3 separate regions of the Homo sapiens genome follow, and all the other regions are linked to region 3. Evidence: fine-mapped expression QTL. A gene starts in region 3. Each other region holds a variant in brackets. All regions are shown on one strand. Distances are between the middles of the regions.

Evidence for each region. PIP is the estimated chance that this variant, and not a neighbour inherited with it, causes the effect.
Region 1: its variant is fine-mapped to the expression of TSTD1 in whole blood (INTERVAL, PIP 0.99).
Region 2: its variant is fine-mapped to the expression of TSTD1 in cerebellar hemisphere (GTEx, PIP above 0.99). The same link has a PIP of 0.9 or more in cerebellum.

What each region holds. Positions count from the first base shown.
Region 1 is chr1:161,012,320-161,020,472 of GRCh38, forward strand. All of the region lies in intron 1 of F11R (F11 receptor), which reads right to left. Among named protein-coding and RNA genes, the nearest start is that of F11R, 4.8 kb to the right of the region's middle. RefSeq lists enhancers at 1,165-1,314, 1,725-1,944, 3,586-4,183, 8,074-8,153. The variant A/C (reference allele first, on the strand shown) is at 4,801.
Region 2 is chr1:161,079,362-161,087,361 of GRCh38, forward strand. It overlaps NECTIN4 (nectin cell adhesion molecule 4), which reads right to left. Exons shown (of 9, transcript NM_030916.3): 2 at 229-588. NECTIN4-AS1 (NECTIN4 antisense RNA 1) reads left to right here and starts at 4,465. Exons shown (of 4, transcript NR_183641.1): 1 at 4,465-4,717; 2 at 5,291-5,451; 3 at 5,576-5,667; 4 at 7,542-8,000. The variant T/C (reference allele first, on the strand shown) is at 4,622.
Region 3 is chr1:161,034,378-161,042,724 of GRCh38, forward strand. TSTD1 (thiosulfate sulfurtransferase like domain containing 1) reads right to left here and starts at 4,587. Exons shown (of 4, transcript NM_001113207.2): 1 at 4,503-4,587; 2 at 4,174-4,296; 3 at 3,536-3,698; 4 at 3,254-3,449. The coding sequence starts at 4,512. The coding sequence ends at 3,398. It overlaps USF1 (upstream transcription factor 1), which reads right to left. Exons shown (of 11, transcript NM_007122.5): 4 at 8,178-8,293; 5 at 7,739-7,840; 6 at 7,274-7,469; 7 at 6,947-7,034; 8 at 6,437-6,495; 9 at 6,199-6,293; 10 at 5,825-5,953; 11 at 4,874-5,632. The coding sequence ends at 5,543. It also overlaps the pseudogene GLRX5P2. RefSeq lists enhancers at 776-1,282, 1,283-1,788, 4,516-4,565, 7,380-7,539.

The DNA of each region.
Region 1 (8,153 bases), 22 kb before region 3:
CTGGCCAGGTGCAGTGCAGCAGCTTAGGCTTATAATCGCAGCATTTTGGAAGGCCAAGATGGGAGAATCACTTGAGCCCAGGAGTTCAAGACCAGCCTGGGCAACATAGAAAGATCCCATCTCTATGCCTCAGGGATATCAATAACAAAACATAAAAGAAGAAATACAACATAAAAAAGAATATAACAAATTTTAAAAAGAGAGAGGCTCTGATCTCTATAAAAATAAAAGAAAAAAAGAATTTTCCTTGAGTTGCTTTTGTGTCGTTTGAATTAATTAATTTTATTTATTTATTTATTTATTTATTTATTTATTTATTTTGAGACAGAGTTTTTGCTCTCGTCACCCAGGGTGGAAAGCAATGGCATGATCTCAGCTCACTGGAATCTCTGCCTTCTGGGTTCAAGCAATTCTCCTGCCTCAGCCTCCCAAGTAGCTAGAATTATAGGCACCCACCACCATGCCCGGCTAATTTTTGTATTTTTGGTAGAAACAGGGTTTCACCATGTTGGCCAGGCTGGTCTTGAACTCCTGACCTCAGGTGATCCACCCGCCTCAGCCTCCCAAAGTGCTGGGATTATAGGCGTAAGCCACTGCACCCGGCCGATTTATTTATTTTTAACTTTAATTTTAGGCTCAGGGGTACATATGCAGGTTTGTTATATAGATGAATTACATGTCGTCGGGGTTTGGTGTAAAGATTATTTCATTACCCTGCTAATAAGCAAAGTACCCAAAAGGTAGTTTTTCTATCCTCACCCTCCTCCCATCCTCTAAACTCAAGTAGGCCCTGGTGTCTGTTGTTCATTTAGGGAAAAAAAAAAAAAAGAAGAAAGAGGAGGAGGGGGAAAAGGAGGGAAAACAGTCAACCAGTCTCTCTCTGGTTTTCTCTAAGAATTCATCCAAACTTCCCTCTGGGCATATGAGACTCACAAGACCCCCCAGTTGCCAGGGAGCTGGAGCCCTGCAATAGGAAGGATGAGTCAGGGCCTCCTCACCCCACCAGCTACAGCATACCCAGTTTAACTTCATGTTTTCCCCCTAATCTCTAGCACAGTGCTCAGAACATAGTAAACACCAATGTTTGTTGGATTAACAAGTGAATTTCACACTGCAATACAATTAGAACCTGGACCTAGAGCTTCCACTCTGGTTTTCCCCTTCCTCCCCACCACTCACCCTGTAGAGATTGAAGTAACTCCCATAAGGGTTGGCCTCCTCGTAAAGATCAAGAGGCTCCATGGGCCAGGGAAGTTCCACAGGGAAGGGCCTTTCCGGGGTTTGGGGTAGAACAGTTTAGAAATGTGTGAGCAAGAGGAAGGCTCTGTGAGGCCAACAACAGGCTGGGCTATGTCTAAATAGCCATCCTTGGCTGCACTTTCAGTGATGTCGATCAGCTGGCTCGGGTCCTCTGAGGATGGCAGAAAGTGGTAATGGCAGGGTAAGACAGGCTCGCTTTCACTCCCTGGCTCCCTCCCGCCCTCTCTGCAGAATTTCCGGTTCTACCTGCTCAGCTCCCCCGCCACCCCATCTTCCCAGTGCAAGGGAAGGTCGAGCCTTCCAGCGCAGGACTTACTTCAGGGGCCCAGCACCCACTTCCTGCCAGCCAGCTGCTTCCTCCTGTTCCGCCCCTACATTGTGAAACAAATGACGCAGCCGGACTTTAGACAGAAACCCTGCTTATCAGGGAGTCCAGGCAGATGAACTCTGGGTTCTCAATGCCAGGAAAACCCTAGTGTGTATCCACTCTCACAGTATGTGTTCACTCATACTGCTTTCCACAACCGTCACACAATAGTGAAACCTCATCCTCAATTATGTTGGACGCAAGGTCATCCAGGTCTTTCCTGAATCTCTGAAACAGAAACTGGTTTGAGTTTAGAGATCTCCAGGGTCTCTAGTCAAACCTAACAGATGTGATAAACAAGTCTCATTATTATCACATAAAATGTGCATGGCATTTAAATCTATTTTTGGGTGTGGTGGAAACGTGTGTTGCCCATTTATGTGTCCACAGAACAAGTGCAAATTGAACTCAGCTGACTTGGAGGGGGGTGGGATGTATCCTAACAGCCAAGGCCACAATCCCTAGAAACCAATATGGGCCAGGTGTAGTGACTCATACCTGTCATTCAGCATTTTGAAAGGCCAAGGCAAAAGGATCCCTTAAAGCCAAGAATTCAAGACCAGCCTGTACAACAGATGAGACCCTGTCTGTACTAAAAAAATAAAAAATTAGCCAGGTATGGCTCACCACTCACACTTGCCTATAGCCTCAGCTATTCAGGAGGCTAAGACTGGAGGATTGCTTGAACCCAGGAGGTCAAGGCTGCAGTGAGGCCAGGCACGGTGGCTCATGCCTGTAATCCCAGCACTTTGGGAGGCCAAGGCAGGCGGATCACTTGAAGTCAGGAATTCAAGACCAGCTTGGCCAACATGGTGAAACCCTATCTCTACTAAAAATACAAAAATTAGCCGGGCAGCTCACACCTGTAATCCCAGCACTTTGGGAGGCCAATGGGGGCAGATCACAAGGCCAGGAGATCAAGACCATCCTGGCTAACATGGTGAAATCCCATCTCTACTAAAAATACAAAAAAAAAAAAAAATTAGCAGGGAATGGTGGCGGGTGCCTGTAGTCCCAGCTACTTGGGAGGCTGAGGCAGGAGAATGGCGTGAACCCGGGAGGCAGAGCTTGCAGTGAGCCGAGATCACGCCACTGCACTCCAGCCTGGGTAACAGAGCAAGACTCCATCTCAAAAAAAAAAAATTAAATTAAAAAAATATGTACAAAAGGCTGGGCACAGTGGCTCATGCCTGTAATCCCAGCATTTTGGGAGGCCGAGGCAGGCAGATCACGAGGTCAGCAGATCGAGACCATCCTGGCTAACACGGTGAAACCCCGTCTCTACTAAAAAAAATACAAAAAATCAGCCGGAGTGGTGGCGGGCCCCTGTAGTCCCAGCTACTCGGGAGGCTGAGGCAGGAGAATGGCGTGAACCCGCGAGGCGGAGCTTGCAGTGAGCCGAGATTGCTCCAGTGCACTCCAGCCTGGGTGACAGAGCCAGACTCCATCTCAAAAAAAAAAATATATATATATATATATATACACACACACAAAAATTAGCCAAGAATGGTGGTGCACGCTTGTGTCCCAGCTACTCGGGAGGCTGAGGCAGGAGAATCACTTGAACCTGGGAGGCAGAGTCTGCAGTGAGACAAGATCACGCCACTGGACTCCTCCCTGGGCAACACAGCAAGACTTTGTCTCAAAAAAAAAAAAAAAGGCTGCAGTGAGCTATGATCATGCCATTGTACTCCAGCCTGGGCAACAGAGTGAGACCCTGTTTCAAAAACAACAACAACAACAACAAAACTCCATGATATATATATATAAGCAAGATGTAGAATATATGTAGTATGCCTCTTTTTGTGTCAGAAAGGGGAGAAAAAACAAGTATTATTTATATATACTTGTATCTGTAAAATGAAACACTGAAGAGACATTAGAAACTATTGGGGTTTGGGGTGAACAGGAGCAACATGGGAATGAGATACCCCACCCCTTTGATATCATTTTAATTATAAAACCATGTCAATTAACCTATTCTAATTAAATTTTTTTAAAAAAAATCACAGTAGCTCTATCTTGAATCGGAACTGGGCTGGAGACTCCACAAGACATGATCACAAAGGAACTGAAGAGCAACATGGTGAGGTAAAAGTGGTCTGGAGTGGCCAGGTGCAGGGGTTCACGCCTGTAATCCCAGCACTTTGGAAAGCCTAGGCAAGAGGATTACTTGAAGTCAGGAGTTCGAGACCAGCCTGGCCAACATGGTGAAAACCCGTCTCTACTAAAAATACAAAAAATTAGGGGCCGGGCGCGGTGGCTCACGCCTGTAATCCCAGCACTTTTGGAGGCCGTGGCGGGCAGATCATGAGGTCAGGAGATCAAGACCATCCTGGCTAACACAGTGAAACCTCGTCTCAACTAAAAATAGAAAAAATTAGCCAGGCATGGTGGCGGGCGCCTGTAGTCCCAGCTACTCAGGAGGCTGAGGCAGGAGAATGGCATGAACCCGGGAGGTGGAGTTTGCAGTGAGCCGAGATCGTGCCACTGTACTCCAGCCTGGCGACAGAGAGAGACTCTGTCTCAAAAACAAATAAATAAATAAATAATACAAAAAATTAGCCGGGCGTGGTGGCGCGTGCCTGTAGTCCCAGCTGCTGGGGAGGCTAAGGCAGGAGAATCGCTTGAAGCCGGGAGGTGGAGGTTGCAGTGAGCCAAGATCATGCTACTGCATTCCAGCCTGGGTAACAGAATGAGACTCCGTCTCAAAAAAAAAAAAAGTGATCTGGAGCCAGAAGGCAAAGACTAAAGGACACTGAAATTCCACTGCCACTCGTTTCCTAGTTCCAGGTAGAACTAGGAAGTGCCAGTCACCAGTTTCTAGTTTGGAGGGAACAATTCACTCCTGGGAGTAGAGGGAGAGGAAAGGAGGAGTGACTCACCAGTGTGGGGAAAAGCAAGAGAGATCAGATTGTTACTGTGTCTGTGTAGAAAGAAGTAGACATAGGAGACTCCATTTTGTTCTGTACTAAGAAAAATTCTTCTGCCTTGGGATGCTGTTAATCTATGGCCTTACCCCCAACCCCTTGCTCTCTGAAACATGTGCTGTGTCAAACTCAGGGTTAAATGGATTAAGGGTTGTGCAAGATGTGCTTTGTTAAACAAATGCTTGAAGGCAGCATGCTCCTTAAGAGTCATCACCACTCCCTAATCTCAAGTACCCAGGGACA[A/C]AAACACTGCGGAAGGCCGCAGGGACCTCTGCCTAGGAAAGCCAGGTATTGTCCAAGGTTTCTCCCCATGTGATAGTCTGAAATATGGCCTCGTGGGAAGGGAAAGACCTGACTGTCCCCCAGCCCAACACCTGTAAAGGGTCTGTGCTGAGGAGGATTAGTATAAGAGGAAGGCATGCCTCTTGCAGTTGAGACAAGAGAAAGGCATCTGTCTCCTGCCCGTCCCTGGGCAATGGAATGTCTCGGTATAAAACCAAGACATTGTACGTTCCATCTACTGAGATAGGGAAAAACCGCCTTAAGGCTGGAGGTGGGACATGCGGGCAGCAATATTGCTTTGTAAAGCATTGAGATGTTTATGTGTATGCATATCTAAAAGCACAGCACTTGATTCTTTACCTTGTCTATGATGCAAAGACCTTTGTTCACGTGTTTGTCTACTGACCCTCTCCCCACAATTGTCTTGTGACCCTGACACATCCCCCTCTCAGAGAAACACCCACGAATGATCAATAAATACTAAGGGAACTCAGAGGCTGGCGGGATCCTCCATGTGCTGAACGCTGGTTCCCCGGGTCTCCTTATTTCTTTCTCTATAGTTTGTCTCTGTGTCTTTTTCTTTTCCAAGTCTCGTTCCACCTTACGAGAAACACCCACAGGTGTGGAGGGGCAACCCACACCTTCACACCAGTCTACGGTTTTGAGGTATGCCTGCCCCTGAAAGGGCAAAGCTAGAAGGGCTTGAGTCAGAAACATCAATAGTAAACACTGGGACTCAGAGAATGACCCAGAAGCAGGGCAGCAGTTCTGCCCTGCCCACGCGGAACTCTTCAGTGATGATACCACACTCAAGGAAGGGCAGGGGAGCAAATGCCAGCATTCCAACCCAGGTTTCCCTCTCTCCCCTGTGGTTACACTGTAAGTTGACCTATCCACACTCACCTCTACTGTGTCTCTCCCTACCTGGTAGACAGCTGAACCTTTTCTAAGGGACAGGTTCCCTAGGGAAAGGGAGGCTAGTACTCTGGGTCATCAGTTTTACTTTTCCCAAGTCCAGCTCTCCCAGTGTCTACCCTCTGGATCTCTGCCCCACAGGGTCAGGGTTTCCCCTCCATTAGGTTCCCCAAGCTGGGGCCAGGCCTTTGCCTGACTTGTCAGTCCTATCTTGCCTTTTCTACTTCCTCCCTGACAGCAGAGCCCACAATGAAGAACAGGGAGAACATATGGGCAACCTATCCACGCCTCTCAGGGACAGTGGACAAGCTAGACACCCAAGAAAAAGCTCCTGCTTTTTGATTTCTGACTCTAGCCATTTGGGATCTCCCTGCTTCCTTTTTTACCTACTCAGCTAGGGACAGCATTCTGGCATTCTTCCATCCTCACAAAATCCACAGGGGATAACAGCTGCCCAAAAATAATCCCTTCATGTATATGTAATGTAACTATTATGCTGGTTGATCCTCCTGACAAAGGTGGGACAAGTATTACTGCTATTTTACAGATGAAAAGACTGAGCTACTGCCTAAGATCACAAACAAGGCAGAGAGAAAGCCAAGCTAGAATGCAGGTATGGTGGCCCAGCTCCCATTTCCATCCTCATTTGCACTAACCAAATCACTCCCCTCCCCCAACCCAACCCCAGATCTAGCCTGATTTAAAAGTTACAAGGTCAGTTCCTCCATCCCCTGGACAAGTCACTTCCCAGGACCCACTGTCCTAACAGGCTAATGCGACATCATCTCAGGTTCCCTCTGCACTACTGTGGCTTGGTTCCCTGAAGACACCTCCAAGCTCAAAATGGTGTTATCATGACCTTCCAGTGCCAGTATATGATTATTTTAGGATTATCATAAATAATATAGGAAATTAGAGGGAGAAAAAAGAAAGGAAGCAGTGGCAAAGGATAGGGAGTAAGCAGCTCCAGGAAGCTTTTAAGCCTGACAAATACTGTCACAGACAAACACTGTTACAAATACAGTCACTCACACAGAAGAAACTTCTGGGCTTAGGGGAAAAATACTGGCACAGTACAAAGGTTGGAAAAACCTTTAGTACCAGAACCACATAACCAAAAATTGACTATGGGTGTCACTAGCAGTTCTAAAATACAGGCAGAAGTAAAATAGGCAAGGGGTAGGGAAAAAAGGGAAATTAAAGAAAAGGGAACTCAAAGAGTAGAAAAAAAGGAAGACATGGCCAGCCGCGGTGGCTCACACCTGTAATCCCAGCACGTTGGGAGGCCGAGGCGGGTGGATCACCTGAGAGCAGGAATTCAAGACCAGCCCGACCAACATGGTGAAACCCCATCTCTACTAAAAACAAAAAATTAGCCGGGCGTGATGGTGCATGCCTGTAATTCCAGCTACTCGGGAGGCTGAGGCAGGAGAATCGCTTAAACCCGGAAGGCGGAGGTTGCGGTGGGCCAAGATGGCACCATTGCACTCGAGCCTGGGCAACAAGCGAAACTCTAACTCAAAAAAAAAAAAAAAAAAAGAGGGAGACATGAATGAAGAAGCTAGTGGGAAAGTAAGTTTAAAGGTAAGTAAGACAGTAGATTCTGAAGCAGTATCCCAAACAGTTCTTGTGCTATAGGGTGCCTGAGATGCTGGATCAAAGAATGGAAAAAGGAAAAGCAAGTCAAGAGGGTTTGGTTCCATTCCCAGGTTCCACCCCTAACTCTATTGTCATTGAAGTCATTTCCCCTTTTGGACTTGTTTCCTTATCAGTAAAATAGAAAGAGGATGATATATGCCTCTGGTCCAATCTCTCCCAAGGGTTTATGTTGTGATAAGGTAGAAATGAGCAGTCAATCCATCTAAGGGCAGGGAATCTACATACACCAAACTGATTGTAATCATTCATTTAACACTTTCTAAAACAAGAACCTTGGGGGTGGGGGGAGACTCATGTAGAACACATACTGACACAACTACTCACACAACGACACGCACACTCAAGAATCAGATAAACACACAGGTACTGCCACAGGTTGACTAACGCACAAACCAACCGACTAAACGCTCAGCCCCACACAAACACATCTAGAGACAGAGGCATGCCCTAGCAAGTGAGCCTCATTGTTCCTCAGGAAAGGGAGTTTACAAAGGAAACAAAAACTCTCATACACAGCCAGAGGGAGGGCAGAGCTCTGGCTCTGATGAGAATCCAGCCAACCAACAGATACACTCTCCCCCTGGGAAGAGTCACTCAATCAACAACACGTATTAAGGACTCCTGAGGTAGTTATTCCATAAAGGAACTTCGCTGGAACCTCTGCTGCGCTTAGAGAAATTTCAGGTTTCTATTGCATTTCCTCTTTAGACTGTGCACCCAGACATTTTCCCAGAGCAACC
Region 2 (8,000 bases), 45 kb after region 3:
GAAGGAAGAACTTCCTAATAAATGGATTCTTCCCCAGCTTTTGGGGTTACTTGGAGAGAATTTCTGGATTGGGTGCGAGGATAGCTAGCTGGATGAAGCTCCCTCACCTGAACATGACCCCACTTTTTATTCCTGTTCTACCTCTGCCCCATCCATCTCTGCAGTCCCCATCTCTGCTTCCCCCTGCATCCACAGCGGCTCAGACCGTACCCAGAGATCCCCGCTTACCCAGCACTCGGAGCCGCAGCCGCGCCTGGAAGCTGCCGGCGGGGAAGGTGCTGACCCGGCACTCGTACTCGCCCTCATCCGCCTGCACTGCGTTGCGCAGGAGCACTGAGCCGTCCAGGGGGTTGCGTGGGGGCGGCGGCTGCTCCACGCGGCCCTCGTAAGCCGGGCTCACATGAAGCCCGTATTTGGAGTGCAGTAGCGCTAGTTCCTGGGCGCCTTCGCCCGCGTCCACCCGAGCCCATGCCACTTGCCCCACTTGCTCGCCGGAGTCCCCTCGGTAGAAGCAGGGCAGTTTTGCGTCCTGGCCCAGCACCACAGTTACCACGTCTGAGGTCTCCAGCTCACCCGCGGGGCACCGGCCTGCAGGGGGCAGAGAGGGACAGCCACCATTAGGGGTGCTGCCAGAGCTGGGGGAGCACAGTCATAATGATAATGACAGCAAAGGTGACCGGAACTCCTGGAGCATTTGGGCTTGCAAAGCACATTCAGTTCATTACCTTATTAAATCTACAAAACGCCTTCCCAAGAGGTAGGCGTTATTATCACCGTTTAACAGATGAGGAAACTGAGACCCAGAGAGAGGAAGTGGCTTGCCTAAGGCCACACAGACGATTTATGGAAGGCTCACACCCTCTTGCAGCCTAGGATTGTATCCTGAGCAGTTGCAAGGTGGGAGGCTGTAACAGAACAGGAGACCCAGCCTCTGCCCTCAGGGAGCTCACAGTCATCAGGGAAAATAGAATTTATGCACAAAGAAACAGGGAAAGCCATGAACAAACTTTCAGAAGAGGTTCAACCCACCAACCGGGAAAAAGTGGATAGTTTCAGAAAGTGTGGCCGGGAGCCACGGCAAGAATCCAAAACTGTTGGTGTCTGGAATGGGGCACATAGGGTAGGAAGGGTCTATTCAGTAGGCCCTTTGGAACATTCTTTTCATGGCTTGAAGATGAGAGACCTGGATTCCTATAGCGCAGGAAATGTTCCATGTGGGAGGAAAGGCATGAACCAAGGCTCAGAGGCAGGAATGAGCAAGCCACTAAAGACAGAAAGGGCCCAGGTCAGAGGCCCAGAGAGATGAGATCAGGGCAGACACACAACAACCGGGTCAGAATTGTAAGCTGGAATCGGAGGACAAGGGACAAAGGGCTAGTACAAAGGGCTAGTATTTAGCATATTAATGAAGCCCTCAGGGATTCTGGAATCAGAGCTATCCATCATGTCACCTTATCTGCAAATAAGGATCCACTCCCTGCTCTCATGGGACTTGAGTTCTGCTCAGGAGCAAGAGATACATATGGAGACACATATGGAAACATGTGATGATGGTTTCTGATTTAGTGCTCAGGGGTGTGTTACAGGCCAACTGTGGGATGGGGCAATCACTATGGGACTGAATCATTTGGGAGGGCCCCATGCATGAGTTGGGTAGGATTAGGAGGGAGAGAGGCCTAGAAAGGCATTCTAAATCAGGAACCACGGTGAGCAAACACCAAGGAGATGGAGAAGGTGGCTTGTTTAGGAAGCAAAGAGGAGAGGACCCAGCCTAAGACAGGGTGTGTGTGTTGAGCAGGAGTGGAAAATATGGTTGGGACAGGGTGGGGCCAAATCACCGGGGAACTTCCATACCAGCAAAGGAATTCATACTTGGTCAAGAGGAAATGGGGAGTCACTAAAGGTTCCTTAGCCAGGGAGTGCCATGAGCAAGTGGTGAGGGGCAGTCACTGAAGGCTGCAGCTGCAGCCTGGGTGCAGTAGTGCTAGGGTGGAGAGGAGGGGACAGTTCTGGGGGGAGATTTGACAGGGATTTGGTCACTGACCAGAAAGAGAGATGAAGGAGAGGAAAGACTCAAAGGCAGCTCCTAAATTTCTAGGATGAGTAACTTATGAGGGAGACAGGGCCTGAGGATGTTCATTTTTGGGAAGAAATAAATTTGGAGTCATGGAATCAAAAGTGAAATATGGGGATTGGGGCCTGGGGGCAGAGCAAAGGAACATGCTGGGATGGCAGGAGCTCCTTGCCTTGGAACGCGTGCCCCAGCAACCCCCAACAGTGTGTTGTCCCTGCCTCTGCCCAGCAAGCCACACACCTTGTTGTTCCTCACCTCTGCTCACACCGTACCCGCTGCCTGGAATGCCCTCCTCCCTATATCTGGTAGCACCTACTCATCATTTAAGACTCCGCTTAGACATCATTTCCAGCAGGAGTCCTCCCTCCTCCCACCCCCACCCCAGGCAGCATTAGGTGCCCTTCCTCTGTGCTCCCCAGCACCCTGCTTTCATTCCCATCACAGCACTTTATCCCTATTTTCTGGGCCTCACATCACCATTGGAACCATTGTTTCTGATTTAGTGCTCAGTGGTATGTGGGTTCCGTCAACATTTATTGACCAAGTGAATGAATGAACAGGTGAATTAATAAATGAGAGAGACAGAAGGAAAGTGTAGAATGAGGAGGAACAGGCTGGGCACAGTGGCTCACACCCTAATCCCAGCACTTTGGGAAGCTGAGGCAGGCAGATCACCTGAGGTCAGGAGTTTGAGACCAGCCTGGCCAAAATGGTGAAACCCTGTCTCTACTAAAAATAAAAAAATTAGATGGGCGTGGTGGCGGGCGCCTGTAGTCCCAGCTACTCGGGAGGCTGAGGTAGGAGAACTGGTGAACCCAGGAGGTGGAGGTTGCAGTGAGCTAAGATCATGCCACTGACCTCCAGCTTGGGCAACAAAGCAAGACACCATCCCCCCGCCACCAAAAAAAATGAGGAGGAACAAGCATTGGGCTGGCCAGGGAGGAACATTACATGGTAACCTTGGGGTGGAGGCAGGATAGGCTGGGCTAGCTAATTGGGTTCACTGCCAAAGGGAGCACCTCCAGACTGGACAGAGGAAAAAAATAGGGATGGAAGGAGGCAGGCATGGAGGGAGGAAATGAAGCCCCACCAGAATGGATCAGAGAGTTTTAGTGAGGCAGCACATAGAGCACAGGAAGGGGTTCCTGTGGCCCTGCTACCAGAAGGAGAGGGAAGAAGGATGCTGAGAGGGCCCAGATGGGACAGGATAGACCTGCAGGGCCAGATACCAGAGCCCTGACCTGCCTAAGCTAATGTTGGTCCCACCCAGCCCAGCCTGGGAGTCCAGCTAACCACCCGCACCCCTCCCAGGCTTTTTCTCCTCCTGGCACTGGAAAGAACAGGGCTGCCAAGGAAGGGCTGTGAGTGAGCTTGGGTAGGGGATCTCCAGCACAACATATCCTCTGCTTCAAACGCTGGTGTCTGTGAAGGTCACAGGGATCCCAAGACCTGCCCCATTAGGACACTCAAACCTTTCTAAAGACTATTTCTGAGACAATATCAGATGGCATATTTTCCATCCCTATTCCTATACTAGCCAACCACCTGCTGCCTCCCCACCACTAATCACCTATATTTCCCTTGGAAAATACCTTCTTAGGGTACAGCAGGCATTAGATACCCAGCGCATGCCTGAATGTCAATCCTCCATGTTCTCACCTGTGAGTCCACGATCCCCACCCCTAGGGGACACACTGAAGCTTCACAGACCGAGGAACCCAGTAAAACAGGAAATTCCCTTCTGGATATCTCCCACAGATCCTCATTGTTCTAAATCCACTACTTAGTAGGAACATCTCAGCCTGAGGCAACACCCTCCTCCAGCTGCATACCCCCCTACCACCCTAGGGTACAAGAGAAGAGAAAATAGAATTTGGGCCCTAGAATCCCTGTCCTTGTCTAAACAGACCCAGAAGTCCAGGTTTCCAGGCCAGGGCAGGCCAGGACTGCCTCCTCCTTCTCTCCTCCACCCAGTGTCAGCCTGGCGTCAGCATGATGATGTCATCAGACCAAAGGAGACACATTGCCTGCCTGGTGAGGTCACCTTGAGGGCATGTGGTGGCCAGGCCAGGCCAAGCCCAGGGACCCTTCTGTTGCAAATTGTTTACTGAGGCTGGTGGACTCCGGCTGGTTAGACACTCCTCCCTCTGACCCTCCCACCCCTCCTCCCTGGAGTACCAGGACGCTGGTCAGGAGCCTTGGTGACTCAGAAGCTGCCTCACAGCAGCAAGCCTAGCCACAGCCACCACCACCTTGCGCAAGGGAGAGAACAGGCCCAACTGGCCAGACGGGATCCCTGCCCTTGGCCTCCCCCACCCTGGCCAGGCCCCCACGGGCCTCTTTGGAGCCCAGCCCTTTGTGTACCCCGCCCGCTCCCAGACAGGCCCTCCATTCCAGGTTTGGGCTGGCTGGCTCTTCCCCACCCTATGCCTGGGTCTCAACTTTCCTTCCTATGTGAGCCTGGCCTCTGATCTCAGGAGGGGAAACTGAGGCTGGCACTTGCTGACACCCAGCCATCAAGAGCATCTTTAAGGAAGTATCTTTTCT[T/C]TATGAGGGGCCTTTCTCCATCAGTATCCCCTGCTGGGACTTACAGATGTGAATGTAGGGGATCGTAGAGGTGGGTCTGTGAGAAGGAGGAAGGGAGTAAGTATGAGTTTTTTGTGTATGGGGAGCTGTGGCTGAGGGCCTGGCCAATCTTAGTGCTGGTTCAAACGCATGTGAGGCTATCTTCTTGCATAAACTGGTGGGTGTTTGGCACATATATGTGTTCATGTCTTATCTTAGGGGCATATACGTACTTACTTGTCTGTGTCCAGAGGGAAGAGCTGTGTATCAGTATGTGTGAATGTGTGTGCACACATGATTCCGTGTGCATGTCACACCCTCTGTATGCATGGAGTGCATTCTTGTCTCGCGGAACTCTGCACACATAGTAAATATTTTGCTGTCGGTTTATCTTGGCTTCCACATGTCTCTCTGTCTCAGCTGCCCTTGGTCTGTGGTATGTGGCTGTGAGCCTTTGCCTCTGCATCCTGCCTGGAATGTCACCCCCAGCATCCTTCCCCACCTTACCCCAAGACTTGAAGACATATTAATCTCAGGCTCAAGGTGGAAGTACCCAGAGATGAGGTCACTGTCCCTCCAGGTGATGGGAACTTGCCATTAAGGACTCCCCAGCAGAACAAAACAAATGTTCCCTCTCCCCTTGCTCCTCAGGTTCCTACTAAAAGGACTGCCAACCTTCTCACCACTACCCCCAGCCACTCCCCTGGGCCCCTCAGCAGCTCTGGCCCCCCAAGGAGGCCTCTCCCTGGGAATCTCTGTCAGGGCTCTGCTGCTGCCACCACCAGAAAAACCAGCTCTGGCTCCAGGCCTGGGTAAGGGTTGTCTGGTGTGGGTTTGGGGGGGTGAGGGGAATCCTGCCTGGGGCTAGGGGGAGGGGTCCAGGCTGTCTAGGGTCTCATGCTCCTTTGTTAACTCCTGCCTCCCCTTACCTGACAGCAACAATCTCCACCGAGAGCTGGAGTATGTGGGTGAGTCTGGGGTGAGAAAGGACCTAGGAGGGACGCACCGAAGCTCACCATCCAGGACAGGTGACACAAACAACCCAGCAAACCCCTTTCCATCCACTCTTTGCCCCATAACCTTGGCCTTGGAGTGCTAAGGAACTTTAAAAACCAGAAGATTCCCTCTCCGCCTTCATCCACCTCCCTCACTTACCCCCCATTGTACTAAGCCCCCCAGCTTAGTGAGAGCTTCCCAGCCTGGGCAAAACGCCCACCCACAGATTAGTGTCTGGGGAGGGGGGCCACACAATCACAAAGGGAGATGAGAACAATGGGGAGGACAGGCCTTGAGGCAGCCCCACTCTGGCCCAGACACAGCTCCCAGCACAGATAAGTCCCCTAAACCCCCCGGAGCCAGAGTCTGAGCCTGGCTGAGTCACCACAACAGCCACACTGTGGGTGGGAGAACCAGGATTCAGCTTCTCCCAAACTCCTGAGATCCTAACCCCTGCTCCACACTGCCCCTCCACCCACCATGGCCAGCTCTGCCCCATCCCAAATCACAGCCTCAACTCCAGCTCTCAGGACACACCAGATTTAGAGGGAAGGGGGTGGGGGTGGCCAGAAAACTATGAGAAAATCTCCTGAGGCCAGAGGCTGCCTGTTCCAGTGAAAGAGTGACCTCAGCCGCCTTCTCCACGGCCTTCCTTTAGGAGGCATGGCAGATGTCTCCCCAGTTCTGAACTTCGCCTCCTCTTTTTTTTTTTTTTTTTTTGACACAGAGTCTCACTCTGTCACCCAGGCTAGAGTGTAGTGGCGCGATCATGGCTCACTGCAACTTCAGTCTCCTTGGATTCAGGCAATCCTCCCAAGTAGCTGGGACCACAGGTATACTACCATGCCTGGCTAACTTTTGTATTTTTTGTAGAGACGGGATTTTGCCGTGTTGCCCAGGCTGGTCTCAAACTCCTGGCCTCAAGGGATTCACCTGCCTTGGCCTCCCAAAGTGCTGGGATTATAGGCGTGAGCCACCACGCCTGGCCCCCTCCTCATTTAGATTCTCTTCCCAAATTAAGACCCTAGGCTTCTCTACTCCCTTCCCTTCTGACTTCGTTCCCCACATCACCTCCATCCCTTCTCTCTGCCTAGACTTCGGTCAGAGCAAGGGCAAGTTTTTGGAGGCTAGAACATCCAATCATTCTCTCCTCACTGGGCCCCAAAGTAGCTAATCCCCATTCACTTTGCCTAGAGGACCCCCAGATCCTGAGGCTCTGGTCTGGCTGATGGAATCATGAACTCTAACCTCCTCATCTCTGTAGCTAGGCTCTCCTTGGCCCGGCCTCCTTAAACACTAGGGTGGGAACAAGGTCACTGGGGTCACAGGGCTTCCCTGGGATTCTCCCAGTTCTCACCACCTCCCTTGCTGGCTTCCCTGGGTTTGGGTAGGTCCTACAGGAAAGGGCCTGCCCCCCTCTGTAAACAGGAGTAGAAAAGTAAGGATGGGCCCCTCCCTTTCAAGGAAATTAACCTCAGACAGAAAGCTGATCCTAACCCCCAGAAGGCAGACCTCAGAATGCAGAGCACCACTTGCCCTTTGGTCCTGCAGGGCTCCTGAACCCGACAAAGAGCTAGGGACTAGGATCCTAATGGGGGGAGGGGTGTCTCGTGGATTTGGGTCCCTCAGCCCCAGGGCAAGAGATGGGGGAGGGAGAAGGGAGGAGACTTCACCCGGAAACTCAACCCATTAAGGAGAGACAAAGAGCTGTGGTGCTGAGGCGCCTCCCAAGCCTGGGCTCCTTTCCCTGTCAGGGGTGGGGCAGGGCCCTGGGGCTCAGAGCTCTAATGGCCCAGGATTTGGGTGGGGGGTGAATTTGCAGTAGGGCCAGGAAGGCCTGGGGAAAGGTACTCTGGTACCCTCTGAGAGATGCGACCAGAACGCTTTCCTCCTCCTATCTCCACAGCCAGACCCAGTGACCCTTCCAACACCCCAGCACCCCACTTCAGCCAGGCCTGGACCATCACAGAGTCATCGTATTTCAGAGCTGGAAGGTCAATAGAGATCATCTGGTCCTAGCTCTCGGTCTACTGAAGTCTGGTTTCATCGCTGCCCAAGGTTACCAAATAGATTAATAGCAGAAACGGGATCTGGACCAAGACTCCTGACTTCCCAGTCCAAGGATTTTTTCAGAGACATGAAACATTCCAGGTTCCTGGGAGCCATTAAGGAGAGTCTACACACAGAAGAGCCAGAATGGGGGTGGTAGTGGAGGTAGGACCATCTGATCCTCAGGCTAGGAGCCTCCAGCCCCCAGAGCAACCTCAGCTCTGTGCAGGTTGTAGCTGCTGCAGCAGCAGCAGAGTGGCCTCCTACCAGGTGCCAGCTTCCTGGGGCAATCTGGAGCCAGGCTTCCTCCCTTACT
Region 3 (8,347 bases):
AGGCGGAGGTTGTGGTGAGCCAAGATCGCACCCTTGCACTCCAGCCTGGGCAACAAGAGTGAAACTCTGTCTCATAAATAAATAAATAAATAAATAAATAAATAAATAAATAAATAAAATAAAGACTATTCTAGTCGAGTGCGGTGGCTCACGCCTGTAATCCCAGCACTTTGAGAGGCTGAGGTGGGCGGATTACCTGAGGGTGGGAGTTTGAGACTGGGCGGATTACCTGAGGGTGGGAGTTTGAGACGAGCCTGACCAACATGGAGAAATCCCATCTCTACTAAAAATACAAAATTAGCCAGGCATGGTGGCACATGTCTGTAATCCCAGCTACTCGGGAGGCTGAGGCAGGACAATCACTTGAACCCCGGAGGCAGAGGTTGCAGTGAGCTGAGATCGCCCCATTGCACTCCAGCCTGGGCAACAAGAGCGAAACTGTGTCTCAAAAACAAAAAAGACTATTCCAACTGGCCCACTATCCTCAATGGATACCTCAATGGCGAGTTTGTGGGGGGCTGTGACATTCTTATGCATATGTACTAGAATGGGTACCTGGTGAAAGAACTGAAAAAGCTGGGGCTCTGTTCTGCCCTTTTAGATTAAAAGAAAGACCAAGACTCCAAGTGAGGGCGCCTGGGCCTCAATGAACAGAGAGGGGGCCGTTCATGTCAGAGACTCCCTGCCAGAAAAGCCTTTCCAATTTTGGTTTTCATTACTGAGACAACAACTGCTTGCACTGATCATTTCAGTTCATGAGCAGTCTAGTGATTTTAGTTTGTCTGGTGTTTGGGTTAAGAATATTTTATTGTGAACTTAATTACAACCACTGCACTGTAATAATTAATGCTATATTATGATATTGTTGCAAACAAAATTCATTCTTATATTGTCATTTATTCTTTGCCCAATTCAGGAGTTAAAGTAGGGGCTTTGAAATCATTATTATTCATGACCCCTCTTGCAGACTGTGTCAGTCTGCAAGGACAGTATCTTCCTCCAAATTTTGTGTAGCTTCTTTTGTTATGGAAAATGGACTAAAAAGAAACTGTGATAACTGGGGCGTTGTTTTTTTAAAATAAACTGCCAACCACAGGGTAAAAAAAGAAAATGGTGCATTTTTTTTTTTTTTTTTGAGACAGAGTCTCGCTCTGTCGCCCAGGCTGGAGTACAGTCTCGTGACCTCGGCTCACTGCAACCTCTGCCTCCTGGGTTCAAGCAATTCTCATGCCTATGCCTCAGCCACCAGAGTAGCTGGGACTACAAGCGAGCACCACCAGGCCTAGCTAATTTTTGTATTTTTAGTAGAGACAGGGTTTCACCATGTTGACCAGGCTGATCTTGAACTCCTGGCCTCAAGAGATCCGCCCGCCTCGGCTTCCCAAAGTGCTAGGATTACAGGCATGAACCACCATACTGGGCCAAGAATTGTGCGTTTTATTGTTAAGTAAATTATGCCAATAATAATAATAAAATGCTATAACCAAATTATAATAAAGACCTGTGGAGGGGAAAACTCGTCTCTACTAAAAACACAAAATTAGCTGGGTATGGTGGCGCATATCTGTAATCCCAGCTACTCGGGAGGCTGAGGCAGGAGAATTGCTTGAACCCGGGAGGCAGAGGCTGCGGTGAGCTGAGATCACGCCATTGCACTCCAGCCTGGGCAACAAGAGCAAAACTCCGTCTCAAAAATAAATAAATGAATGAATGAATGTAGGAGGGCTGGGTATAGTAGAGAAGGCAGAAGGGAAGAAAAGGAGGTGAGAGACAGGCAAGGAATGCAGGAAATGCCTGAAAGAAGTTCTTCAGAGGCATGAAAAATCAGAAAACTGGATTCATTTCTGACTCAATCTTCTCTTCCACAGATTAAGGAATACATTTTCCAAAAATCAAACTTAAGAAGTAAAAACTCTGCCATGAAAATATTTAAAATGTATTATGCATCAAACTATACACTATACTAGAGGGAAGTCATATACCTACTGTGTAGTGCTGAATTTTGTTTCAGTAAGCATGTGTAATTTCATCTTTTTAACCAATTAAATTTTGGTTTTTTTGAGACTGAGTCTCTCTCTGTCACCCAGGCTGGAGTGCAGTGGCACTATCTCAGCTCACTGCAATATCTGCCTCCTGGGTTCAGGCAATTTTCCTGCCTCAGCCTCCCAAGTAGCTGGGACTACAGGTGTGCACCACCACACCTGGCTAATTTTTTTATTTTTGGTAGACATGGGGTTTCACCATGCTGGGCAGGCTGGTCTCAAACTCCTGACCTCAGGTGATCCGCTGCCTTGGCCTCCTAAAGTGCTGGGATTACAGGCATGAGCCACCGTGCCTGGCCAACCAATTAAATTTGTTAAATCCAGTATAAGAGATCAGTGTTGATAAAAACAGAAACCTGAGGCCGGGCGCAGTGGCTCACGCCTGTAATCCCAGCACTTTGGGAGGCCGAGGTGGGCGGATCATGAGGTCAGGAGATCGAGACCATCCTGGCTAACACGGTGAAACCCCGTCTCTACTAAAAAAAAATACAAAAAATTAGCTGGGCGTGGTGGCGGGCACCTGTAGTCCCAGCTACTCAGGAGCCTGAGGCAGGAGAATGGCGTGAACCCGGGAGACTGAGCTTGCAGTGAGCCGAGATCGTGCCACTGCACTCCAGCCTGGGTGACAGAGCAAGACTCTGTCTCAAAAAAAAAAAAAAAACGAAACCTGGTTTTGGTGGCACAGGAAAGGCTCCTCACACCTGTAATCTGTGCATGACACATCAGTAGGGATGAAGGGTTCCATCCATTCCCTCACCCAAAGGCCTGGGATTGCCCTTTCACCTCCTCAATCCATGGACAAAGCAGCCATAGACAATAACCAAAGTTCACAGCAGCACAGCCAGTTGGGGCCATAGTTTGCTGACCTCTGGTCTACAGCAGTGGTACCTGCTTCTGGCTGTATATGAGAATCACCCCAGGGGCCCATAAAGCCACTAATGCTCAGGCTCCACCCTCCATATTCTGAATTAAAAAATAAAACAAACAAAAAAACCTACTAGGTGATTCTGATGTGCATTCTGGGCTGAAAACAGCTATTCTAGAAGAACTGTACATTGTAGCCTCTCAGGAAACTGCTAGAATGTTGCATGTGGGGAGTGCTAGGGGGAAGCAGATGAATGCTGCGAAATGATGATCCAGGGCTGAATTGAGGTCTAGATAAAGATTAGAACTGTTTTCAGTCCACCTGACACATTAAGTGCTTCCAATACTTTGATTAAATGTTCTTTATTTGATGCTTTTGTGTGCACAACACTATAAGGAGTTGCCCAATTCACCAAGTCAGCCCGTTCACACCCTTAGTTAAGGTGGCCATTAAGGGGCCAGGGGGTGGCAATCAGTAAGCTGCCTCCTGCCTAACTCTCTTTCTCCAACCATTCTCTATAGGCTCCAGCGTAGTTGCGAGCCCTGTGGAGACAAAGAAGCGTGAGAGACTGACAGGAATGACAGGCAGTCCCCATCACCTCCCAGCTAGCAGCCACACCTCCCCGTACCCAGTGTATCCAAGACTCCGGGCCAGCTGCGTGGCCTGGAGGCCCCGCTTGCCCATCTGACAGAAGAAAACGAGATGCTCATCTTCCAGCTTTGGCTTCTCAGCAGAATATAAAGCCTGGAAGGCAGCTGGCTCCATCTGCAGAGCACTCTCCAACTCGGACACTGGAGGAGTGGAGAGGGTAGAAGGGAAAGCCAGCAATTTGGCACTCAGGTTCGGAAGCTGGGCCTGGAAGGGCTGGGTCCTGGGGGCCCCCAAACAACATATGATAACCATCCCCTACCCCCACCCCAATTTCAAGGAACAGAAACCGACAACTTTTGAATGCAAGCCACTCCCTAAGCTGTGAGGAGGCGGGGCGGGATGCCCCCTCAGGCGTCCAGATTTGGGGAGGTCAAGAGAAGCTGGTCTGCCCCTCTCCTCTCCGCCTGCTGTCTTCTCAAACTGGATGGGCCAGTTCCGATGCCAAGATCCGCCCCCCATCAGTCCTTCCTACGGAAGCTGAGGGCTGGCTCCCGGGAATGCAGGACCCCCATAATCAGTGCCTTCCCCATTCCATCCTAAATGAGGTCCCATTGGCAAAGAACCTCCTGAACGGTCTCTATTCCACCACCTGGGCGTCCCCTCTCCACCCTATACCCGGGATGTTGAGCGCCCCTGGGATGGTCCCAGCTGCCGCCTCCTCGCGAGAGCGCACGTCGAAGAGCCGGGCCCGTCCGGAGGCTAGGAGTGAACGGAGTTCAGGAAGCGAGACCGTGGGCGCTGAGGAAGGGGCGCGACAGCCTTCAGGAAGAGGGGGCCTAGGAGTCACGGCCGCCATGGCATCCCCTCACCTGGCAGCGCCCCTCCCGGTAGGGTGTGCACGAAGACCCCTCAGCCACGCCCCTTCGCTCCGCCACCCCACTCCCTGCCACGCCTCAACCCAGAGGACCAAGAGAACCGCGGCCCCAGGAATCCCCCGCAGGTACCTCCAGCCATGGTGCGCGTAGCAACCGCGAGTCTCCGGAGTGCGGCCCTGGCCCGCCCTCTCGGCGCCTGCAACATCTCCCGTTCCCTCCCAGAGCTGAGACCGGATCCGGAAGCAAGGGCACCGCCTCCCGCGCCGCCCCCGCAGCACCTGTTCGCGGCGCCTCTAGCACCAACCCACCGCAGAAGCCCTTAACATTCTCTAGCTTGGGCCAAAAACGACACACCGGTCTGGCCCAGGAACCAGGACTCCGGGTAATAAATGCAGGAGCAGCACCCCACCCTGAACTTGGCACAGCCCTTACTGGTCGAAGAGCAATGTGCCCCTCCCTTCCAGCCCGTGGCCCACAAAAGGAAGAAAAACAGACAACTGTGGCTTTGAACAATTTTATCTTAAAAAAAAAAAAAAAAAAAAAAAAAAAAGAAAAGAAAAAAAAAAAACGACCCCCACAAGGGGGAAGGCCCCAAGTGGGCCCCTGCCTGTTGTTCTCTCTGGCTCCAGAGATGTCTGCATAGGCCTCAGCTTCTCACTGGCCAATCTCCTCTTCATGGGCACCAGCCACTGCTAAACATCCTTCCCTCACTTCTTGTGTAAGCTTGCTCCCCTGAGCCACAGGTTGCACATCTAAACCTCAGCTCCAGGGAAAGGAAGAACCAATGGAAGTGCCAGAGTCCTGGGGCAAGCCAGAGCATCACCTGTCAGCAAACCTCTGCTGGGCACTCTAAGCAAGCACAGGACAAGCCCCAGAGTTTAGTGTGTCCAGTATCCAGCATGGAGACAGCACATGCATTGTGCGAGAGGAGCACAAGGGCCCAGGGGCTGCATGGTGGGGGTGGGCAAGGCTGTCAGTGCACGTCCACATTGTGTGTTTCACACCACTGCAGGCCGCCATATCACAGGGCCTCAGTTCAAGGACACACCTTCTGAACTTCCCCCTGTCCCATGCCAGAAGTGGGGCAGTGAAGGAAAGGGGCACGGGATTAGGCTGTTGCTCCTGGGCTATCTGCAGTTCTTGGGCCCAAAGCCCCTGAATCCCCATAGTTAGTTGCTGTCATTCTTGATGACGACCTCTAATCCGTGGTGCCGCAACTGAGCTCGAAGCAGCAGATTCTTGTTTTTAAGATCTTCCACCTGACATGGGAAGGAGGCAGTAAAGGGAATGGGTAGTAAAGCTGGCACTTCCAAGCCCCTGAATGTATTCAGACATCCACTGGTGAGGGGGAAAAGATGAAGCCTTCTCCATGGAGAACAAAGTAGAGGGTGTCAAACTGGGTCAGTGGCTAGCAGAACTGAGAAGGGCTGCACTGGGGGTAGGAGTCTGACCTGTTGTCGAAGCACGTCATTGTCCAGCTGCAGTTGGTCAAGTCCCTGCAGTTCTTCAGACAAGCGGTGGTTACTCTGCCGAAGCTCCTGGATATAATCACAAGCTTTGGATAGAATCCCACCTTTACTCTGCAAGATAAGGTCAACAAAATGAGAACTAGGATTTCAGATACCCAGCTTGCTTTCCAAAAGTAGGTTCACACTTTGGACCTCATTTTCATCTAAGGAAGGTGGTATAATATCTCCCAGGGATACAGGAACCTCAGGGAGAGATAAGACTACTGTCATGTGTGCCCCTCTCTCTACCATTTCTGGAAACAATACCAGGAGGCAGAATTCAGGCATCCTGCCCACTACCAGGGTCTTTCCATGACCTGGCCAGACTTGGTGCTCTCCATAGAGCAGTCTGGGATTATCTTGGAGAGCTGCACGATCCAGTTGTTGATCTTGTCTCGGCGGCGACGCTCCACTGTGGGGCAAAGTGGAGGACAAGGTGACTCAGTGAAAACTCGCCACAAGTCCCAGGGTAAAATTACCTAATCCCTCCTCCCCTCAGACATCACTGCTGAGATCACACCAGACAGCTTCTAGCTCCACCCAGATCATACCTACCTTCATTATGCTGAGCCCTGCGTTTCTCATCCCGAGTCGTCCGGGGAGCTTCTGACTTCCTGACAACAGAGCCCAGGGTGGCCAGAGTAAGAAGACAAAATACATGATTGAAGTTTGGGGTTAAGGAATTATACAAGATTTAGCAGGTATTAGGACCACTTATGGTAGCTAGGTGTGGTGTCTCACACCTGTAATCCCAGCACTTTGGGAGGCCGAGGCAGGCGGATCACTTGAGGTCAGGAGTTCGAGACCAGCCTGGCCAACATGGTGAAACCCTGTCTCTACTAAAGATACAAAAATTAGCCAGGGGTGGTGGTACATGTCTGTAGTTCCAGCTACTCAGGAGGCTGAGGCATGAGAAACGCTTGAACCCTGGAAGCAGAGGTTGCAGTGAGCTGAGATCATGCCACTGCACTCCAGCCTGGGTGACAGAGCAAGACTCTGTCTCAAAAAAAAAAAAAAAAAAAAAAAACCACTTACGGAATCTGAGAAGAAACAAGGGTCACTCACGGGGAATAAGGGTGAGTCCTAGGGGCAATTGAGCGCTGGCTTCCTCCCTGCAGTACTTCTTGTGGTGACATCATCACAAAGAATTGACCTGTGAAGATGCAGGGTAGGTTCTGTCAGGACATGGGTAGGAACCTCACCAAGCCCTGAGGTGAAGACCCTGGTCCCCTCCTCTAAAAAGAACATGCTAATAGAAGAGCAGCCCCAGACTCACTGCCTGTCCAGGTCTTAATGATCACTAAGAGTCATGAGTGAAGGCTCACTGCCTACCAGTCATGTCCCACAGCCTATTCTAGCCCTTTCAGCCAGCATCCTCATGCAATATCTCACCAGTGCCAGGAGGGGTCGCCTGCCCCAGCAGTGCCTCTGAGCCCTGGGTAGTAACAACAGCAGCTGTACTCCCCGATGTGGTACCCCCTGCCCCATCTCCCACTGCCGTGCTGGGGAAGTAAGTATAGTGCGTCTCAGCAGCTGTCCCCTCCGTGTCAACTGCATCATCACTGGTGAAAGCACCCTGGATCACCGCCTGGGAAGGGGAGCAAGAAAACTGATTCTGGTAACAGTCAAAAACTTCTTCCCACTACACCACTCTGCAGCTTCTATCCGTTGGGGTGGTAGGTAGGGTGGAGAGAGAGAGAGAGAGAGAGAGAAACATCCAGAAAAGGAGAGCCTAGTGCTTTGGGACAAGGCAGCCTTAGATGCCTCACTGTTCCTAGCTTCACCCCCATCCTACTGATTCCCTTCTTCATCTTACTTCTCAGAACTCTAGTGACCTCCCCAGCCCATACCCTGTACCTGGGTCATGGATTGAGTGGCAGGGTAGCCACTGATGGCGCCAGTTCCCTCAGTTTGGCCATCCAGCTGCCCCTCAGACACCTGGATCACCCTGTACATCACCTAGAAGTGTAGAGGAAGGCAGAGGGAGTGAAGAGAGAAGAAAAGATTAAGTGTTGGGAATCCTAGGGCCCCTCATAAAGCTTCCCTTGGATAGGGCCCCAAAACAAAGTCCTTCAGAGACATGGATTCAGCCATTCTCCCTTCTTTCCCCACACAGAGGTTTCAGCATACATCTAACCTCACACCAGTCTCTACTCCAGTATTAGCACCTCCCTCCCCTGCAACAGTCCACTCTTTCAACTCATCCTCCAAGCCAGGTCTCCCCAAGACATGTTCAATTACCTCCCTCAATCCCAACCCCAGATAACACCTGCAGCCACCTGGCCCCCTCCCTTACCTGGCCCCCATTCTCAGTTCGGAAGACGTACTTGACGTTGGGGTCAGGGAAGGTGGCAGCTGACTGGATGCTGGCAATAGCCACACTGGTTGGGTCTTCCCCAGTAGCCACTGCACCTGAATTAAAAGAACAAAGGAAAAGTCTGTGAGTTAACTGCCTTTCTACCCCCG